Linked DNA regions of Homo sapiens. The gene in region 1 interacts genetically with each later gene. Each region holds a gene or a part of one and is shown on either strand. Other genes may lie near its edges. The genes, in order: CCT8 and ATG10.

Evidence for each region.
Region 2: of CCT8 (region 1) and ATG10, changing one enhances a phenotype caused by changing the other (phenotypic enhancement), as found in Homo sapiens cells (one large-scale study listed by BioGRID).

Annotation. Positions count from the first base shown.
Region 1 is NC_000021.9:29,059,880-29,063,708, forward strand, and holds part of CCT8 (T-complex protein 1 subunit theta), read right to left. Parts: intron 3,652-3,829; coding exon 3,473-3,651; intron 2,678-3,472; coding exon 2,611-2,677; intron 2,537-2,610; coding exon 2,449-2,536; intron 2,365-2,448; coding exon 2,249-2,364; intron 1,689-2,248; coding exon 1,617-1,688; intron 1,539-1,616; coding exon 1,374-1,538; intron 782-1,373; coding exon 662-781; intron 1-661. UniProt on the Homo sapiens protein: Component of the chaperonin-containing T-complex (TRiC), a molecular chaperone complex that assists the folding of actin, tubulin and other proteins upon ATP hydrolysis.
Region 2 is NC_000005.10:82,055,484-82,059,312, reverse strand, and holds part of ATG10 (ubiquitin-like-conjugating enzyme ATG10), read right to left. Parts: intron 819-3,829; coding exon 711-818; intron 1-710. UniProt on the Homo sapiens protein: E2-like enzyme involved in autophagy. Acts as an E2-like enzyme that catalyzes the conjugation of ATG12 to ATG5. ATG12 conjugation to ATG5 is required for autophagy. Likely serves as an ATG5-recognition molecule. Not involved in ATG12 conjugation to ATG3.

The DNA.
Region 1 (3,829 bases):
ATGACTTTTACCTAATGGATGTATACTGTCCCTCTAGCAAATTAAAATTTTCTATTAAGTACTTATAAATAGTCATTGCTTATTAATTACTTCTAGAATTTTGTGGGGAAATGTATTTAATTAAGTTTGCCAGAAAATACCTTTTGGAAAAATAATTATGATTTCAGGTTTACTTCTATATATAGAACAGTCTACCACAATTCTTCAAAAAAAAAAAAAAAAGGGTAGAAATATGATTTTAAACACCTTTAACATCTTTTAGTATCTCAAGCTGTAATTTGTCATAGCAGAAAAAATTTTCAATGCCCAGTCCTCTTATCTGCAGACAGCTAGAGACTCCATTTTCCTTCAAGCTGGTGGTCTGCAATGTCTGCTTGAGAGCTTTATGGTCCTTCCAAATTCCATGTTAGTATTATATATTAAATTTACTCTCTAAATTATTTGTACAAATGGGTTCTAAGGCTAAAAGGTTTGAAAGTTATATATTCAATACAATTTATAATAGAAGAAAAAAATTGGAGGGGGGCACATAGTATCTCTAATAGGTGAGGACTAAGAATCCTTTGAATTAGAACTATGCTATGTTCTAGTTCTGGGAAAATATACTATTAAACAGTATGCAAATGAGTATTTTTAAAGATCAAAATTTCACTTTGCTCACCTGATCCACTCTAAGTACAGTGACTGCAGCATTAGTAGCGAGTTTGATAGCCCAATATTTTCCCAGGTAAGTATCTAGAATACCAGCTTCCAGCATGTCCTTTACAGCAGGGACTTCAGCCTGTCAAACACAATTTTCATCCTTTCATTTAAAATCCTTTTATGTGAAAATGTTTACACCCACAAAAAGCCTCACATAGCTCCTTAAATAGTACTGGAAAGTAACCAAGCACAGTCCTACCTTATAGAGTCATCCTTTAGTATGTGAGGATTGGTTCTAGCACCTCCAAGGATGCCAAAATCTGTGGATGCTCAAATCCCTTACATAAAATGGCATGGTGTTTGGATATAATCTATGCACATCCTCTCATATACTTTAAATCGTCTCCAGATTAATTATATAACATAGTGTAAATAGTTGTTATAGTGTATTTTTAAATGTCTTTAGTTTTTCCAAATATTTTCAATCTGTGGTTGGTTGAATCAATGGATACAGAACTGGGCTGACTACACACTACAGAACAAAAGACTATCAATAAAACAGAAGGAAAATGAAACGTTCCTCCATCAGACAACCTATGTAAAAACTAAGAAAATAATCTGCTCCCAAATCAGAACACTGTTTCTCATTGATATTTCTTTTAAACTCATACTATTTTTAGGTTGTGCATTCCCCAAATAAAGCAATTTAAGTTCAGTGTTTTTTCAAATACCTCAATATCTAATCCAACGTTTTTATTTCCTTCTTGATGTACTGCATAAAGTTTAGAGATTACTTCATTGGCCTTAACTCCAGAGTTTTCTGCCAGTGCGCGGGGAATAGCTTCAAATGCCTCAGCAAACTTCTTAATAGCATACTGTTCAAGTCCAGGACATGTCTAAAACAAAAATGCGTTAATTACTGTCTTTTATTCAAGCAATGGAAAGAAAGTCAATTTATACAGAAAAAGCTGTACCTCTCCATATGATGTGATCTGTTTGGCTAATTCAATTTCTGTTGCTCCACCTCCGGGTACAAGACGTTTATCCTGTATGTAGCGCCCCCACCAAAAAAAAAATGAACACAAAACAAATTCACTAAAAATCAGTTTGCAGTTTTCTAATCTTTTCACATTCCAGTACCCCACCAAACAGGAGTTTTTATCAGTCATTGTTACTCAAATACATATTACAAATTTGGTAAAAATGAGTGGGTGGGGCAAATTTTCTTAGTGCACAGTGTCTGGTGTATGAAAAGGACCAAAGTGAAGAATGGGAATAGTACCGTATCATTTTTGCATATCCACAGATATAGCACTAAGAACTGCTTTAGCAACTAACAGTACATTACAATGGAAAACAACGATAAACAATTTTTTTTAAAGCTCTGTTTTGCTGTTAACTCCTCTGTACAATCTTTTTTGGAAACTATCATATTCACTAACAATGGACACTTAAGTCTTAGGTAAAAACAAAAACAGGTGCTTCATTTCATATAAACCACTCATTCTGAAGTTCTCATGATGTGCAAGAGTCTGCAAACTGTACTTTTAAGACCATACAAATTACTCAGACCTTACAAACTACTAAGAATATTGCTGATACTGACCCTTGTAAGAACTTTGAAAGTATTAACACCATCGTCTACTGCCCTTTCTATGTCATCCATCAGATTGTCTGTAGAGCCTCGAAGTACTATGGTAGAAATGGCGCCATCTTCCTTTTCTATCAAAAAATTAAATATATTTGGTGATTAAATACAAGAAGCTAAAGCCCTACACTTAAACATGTTTTACCATTCCTACATACCATGCTTAAAAACCACCACCTGAGTATCTCCAACTTCTGAGAGGTAAACACTGTCACAGTGTCCCATTTCTTCAAGGACAGGAGGTGTCTGTAAGAAAGTGACTGTTGTAATAAAAATTCCATCTTGTTCAACTATCTTTTAGTGTTTTCCAAAATACATACCAATCTAGGAAGAGCTGTAGCACCAACAGTTTTACAAAGTCTTCGGAGATCCCATTTTGAGTTTAGCCTTTAAAAAACACAAAGACCTTAATAAAAGTTTTAATCAATTTCAGATAGCATATAAAGTTCAAATTAAAGAGGAACCTGTATACCAGCCCCCATGTCACATTCCTTTGACAATGGATTTTAACTCAGAACATGTCTGGATTGCAATGAACACTAAGGCCAGGAAGCTGATTCCTGACTCTCTGAGTGAGTCCAGCTGGCCAATAGTACCACATCTTAAGCCTGTGTTGTATGGCATTGTTCTAGAATTGGGAGAATGGAAGTCACTTTAGGATGTCAGTGGTTTATAGTTCTAAAACACCAGAGAAACCCTTACAAAACTCAACAGCATATAGAAAATTTTTGCTTTACTTTGTGCAATCAATGTTCTGTGAACAAGAGTGATTTATTTTGCACATTTTATTAGGTACTAGGGATGGTGGTAGGTAGAAATGGGTTAAGTTGTCTAGTGTGCACCATAAATGTGTTCATGGATTAAAAGGGATCTTCCTGACTCCATACTCTGATAGGCAATGCACCAAGCTTGTGTCTAGTCTCTTGGACAAGTTGTTCCTTTTGCCTGGAATGCTTTTCCCTCTTCAATTATCTGGTAATTGGTTCTTCAAGCTCTCAGCTTAAATTTATGTTTTCTCAGAGGTGTTTCCTGACCCCTCCCCAAACTAAATCCTTCTGCTATTTGACCTAGTACCTTTACTTTCCCTTTATTAACAGTCTTCATGGTCTATTTCGTTTAGTGTTTTCACCACCAAAAAACCATTTATGATATAGGTAAAAAAAAAAATCGGCTTTTTCTTACCTCACTAACATGATATTATATTTATTTGCATAATGAAGAGCCATGTCTGCCACTTTGCCACCTGTTACTACGACATTTGCACCAGTATCAGCAATAGCTTTGACTTGTGCATCCATGAGGTTTTCTTCTCCCTTACTAAAATTCATCAATTCTTCAGCAGTCTTTATCAACACTGTTCCCTGGCAAAACAAGTAAACATTCCCTTTAAAATCATTTCACTACGTTGGTGTTCAAAGTCATTAGATAATAGTTGACTGAAGAAATAAAGGTTTGGCAAAAAAATATGAAGATATATGTGCATATATTATGAAGCAGCAGAATACTGTATGTGTGAAATAGAAACTCAGCTTGCTTCTA
Region 2 (3,829 bases), on another chromosome or scaffold:
TTAAATCCTTTTTATATATTTCTCTATTATTTATTTTTACAATGGGTATATACAATTTTTTTCACAAGAAATACAATAAGGCTATTTGCATTTCGATAAAAAGAAAAATGAAAATATCTCAGAAAACCACTCAGTCATTAGTACCATAATAAAATTTGGTTCAGCAAGATTTTCAAGTCAAGGTTAAAGTCCCCTAAGGAATAAGACCCAGATCCAGCATATTTTCAAGGGAAAAGGGGCTAAAGGCAGAGCAGGCAAAGAGGTCTCCAATCAAGTATTAAGCAGCCTGGGGCTAGGGCTATATTCAGGGAATTTTACTTGGAAAAAAAAATCAATAGACAACAGAAGGCATCTGTGGTATTCAGGTCCAAGAGAAACCAAAAGTATGACGGCTCACTACAATCTGGAGTCAGAGTGGATCTTATATAACTTTACCACAATTCTTGCTTTCAGTATTACAAAGGAAAATACCTCCTTCTCCCCCTACAACAGGCCCAGGATCCAATGGCAATTGGATCTCTCTCCAGTGGGAAGAAGTTTGAAGTTTTTAAAATATTTACTTAACAGAATTAAAGTATTTTATTTCAATATGAGTGCCATATAATTGTGGTGCTTCCATAGGATGGAATGCGATGGAGTCATTAAAGTATACATTTTTAAATGTATACTTTACGGAGACTGAAAAGAACATGATGCATTAAACTACTCACCTCCATGGGAAGACATGTCTGTCCATGGGTAGATGCTCCTAGATGTGACATCACAGACCCATTCTTAATTTGAAAGTGTATTTTGCACATGTAGCCATCAGAACAGTCCTGTGTTTCATCACCAAAAAATATATAAGAAAATGCCAATTATTTTAAGAATTCATCATTTTAAGAACCACTTCCCATAAGTTCCAAACTGATCAGTGAAAAACTAAATGTACTAAATGAGACTATATGGATAAAGAGACTAGTCCAACACCCTGTACGTAGTAAGTACTCAATAAATGCAAGTTTTATTCTCCTACCTCTCTTATTTATTAATGATGTTTCCACCCTCCTAGATTAAACCTTTCCCTTTTTTCCTGACTAGTCCATAGCACCAAGATCACAGAACAAAACTTAAGCTTATAGAAATAGCTTGTCACATAATTAATATTGATTTTCATGGCATACACATAGAGAACAATTTTAGGACTTGAAATAGATCTTGAAGCTGCAAGAAAGCTTCCATTTCAATTTCTTTCTCAAGGCAAGATCTCTATGAAAATGTCCCAGAAAGGTACTTATGCATCTCAGCAACTGCCTGAGTACCTCCAGGAACTGGCCCTTGTTACTCCCTTACACAGCGGTCATTTCCATTTTAGTGCATTGTACATTAAGAAAGTTTTGTCCTGTATTTCACATCCTTTAACTTACTTAGTTCTGCCCTCTGAAGTCTAATCCCTTTTCCACACAGCTGTTCTTCCAAGCGCTGAAGAAATGACCACCATTTGCAAATACTCCTTACAAAATATGGTTTCTGAGCCCTTTACCAGTATTTGTCTCCTGTTTCTTGTACTTGCTCTTAAATACACTAATGAATGATGTTCATCTAATTGTGGCCAGTTCCATTTTTTTAAGGTAACACTTTTTTGAATTCAATAAAGTCATGTGTAAGAATATAATACCTCCCCAAGAACAAACATACATGCCAATAAATATTAATTCCCCACCACATTGTCATACCAACATTTACATTTTAATAGAATTAAAATAATAAGGACTAAGGGGTTAATCTTCCTATAAGAAGAGGGAAATTTGGATGCAGTGACACAAACAGGGAAGAAAGCCATGTGAAGATGAAGACTGGAGCGGTGCATCTAGGAGCTAAAGATTGCCATCAGCCACTGGAAGCTAGAAGCAGTAAGGAATGGTCCTTCCCTAAAGCCTCTGGTGGGAGCAGGACCCTGCCAACATCTTGATTTCAGACTTCTAACCTCCAGAACTGTGAGAGAATAAATTTCTGTTACTTTAAGTCACCCAGTTTGTGGTTCCTTGTTATAACATTCCTAGGAAACTAATACAGTAACTCTATTTTTTAAGACACTTGACAGCACCTTAAGAATGCCTCCCAGTAAGTTGTGCTGACAAACAGCCAGCTCTCACTCAGGGGGCTGCACTGGTTAGTTGTTGATTGGTTAGATCCAACTCATTCTGATTGGTTGATGCCTCTGTCACAGGTTGCTAAATATTTTTAATATCATTCCTGCCTGGAAAGTAGGCCATCAGATATCCAATACTGTCATTTTTAATTATTTCATTAAGGATATCCATTTTGTAGATGGAATTACTGTTTTAAATTCCAGCTCTACACTATCTGACCACAAAGCAGATCCTGTAATGGTCTTCTACCATTGAAACCTTCGTATTTAGAAAAATGTAAATTTAACATTGGCTTAAACTGAGAAAGATATATGTAATGACTGTTGTCATTGCCACTGTTTCACATCAAACATCCATTCTTCCTTCTTTTGGAGCAGTAGTCATTGCTCCTCTAAGGAACAATTGCTCCTCAATTCTCCTGATTGAGAAGGGAATGGTTCCTTAGAGGAGCATTGGCTACTGTTACACTAATTACAGCTCCAGGGATAGACACAGATCTCTGATCCTGCCCATCAGTACTGCCGGCCCCAGAGACTCTGGAGGACAAATGATTACAGCTCCAGGGATAGACACAGATCTCTGATCCTGCCCATCAGTACTGCCGGCCCCAGAGACTCTGGAGGACAAATGATCTACATCACAGCCAATGGGATGAAATTCAGGATTTGGTTTTGGGGGGTTGGGAAAGGTGGCTGTTCTCTTCTCCACTAGGTTTGAGCCAGACAGACCACAAAAAAAAAAAAAAAAAAAACCTGGCAGCCATCATGTAATTAAACGAAGTTGGCTCTGCAACTCAGAGGAAAGCAAGACCATGAGATACAGAGAAACCACATTCTGACTACATTATTTACACCAACCATATCTGAAACTAGTTCTATCTCAGATTTTTCAATTACATGGCCCCAAAAAGTCCCTTCTTTGCTTCACCCAATGGGTTGGGTTTTCTGTCACTTGCAACCAAAATAATTTTGCTATTAAGTAACATAAATTTGTGTTTATTAGTTTAAAAATAGAAGATTTCTATTGTATTGTCAATCTTGAGATAGATAATCAATAGTTGATTATATAAAAGATTTACCATATACAGTCATGCATCACTTAACGGCAGGAATACCTTCTGAGAAACACGTCATTGGGCTATTCTGTCATTGTACAAACATCATAGACTGTGCTTACACAAACCCAAATGGTATGGCCTCCTACATACGTAGGCTATAGACATAGTTGCTTGCTCCTAGGCTGCAAACCTGTACAGCATGTTACTGTATTAATTGCAGGCAATTGTAACAAAATTTGTGTAAAATTTGTAAGTATTTGTGTATCTAAGCATATCTAAACAAAGAAAATGTACAGCAAAAATACAGTATTATAATCTCATGGGAACACTGTACATGTGGTCTGTTCTTGACCGAAATGTCATTATGCAGCATGACTATACGGTAAAACTATAATAGCATGTGTTTGAGAGAAAAATTACCCAAAGTCTGCAATTTCAAAATGATCTAGCCATAGAGATAAAAACCAAAACTCTCAGGATATTCAGAGAACACGGAGCTGCACTGTGTGTACTAAATATAGCTCATTAAATGAGGGTAACTGCTCTATTTTGTATTTTTCAATACCTGAGCCCTGGTCACATAACCTCCTCTTAAGGGAACATAAAATTTAGTAAAATTCTAATAACAATGCAAAATACA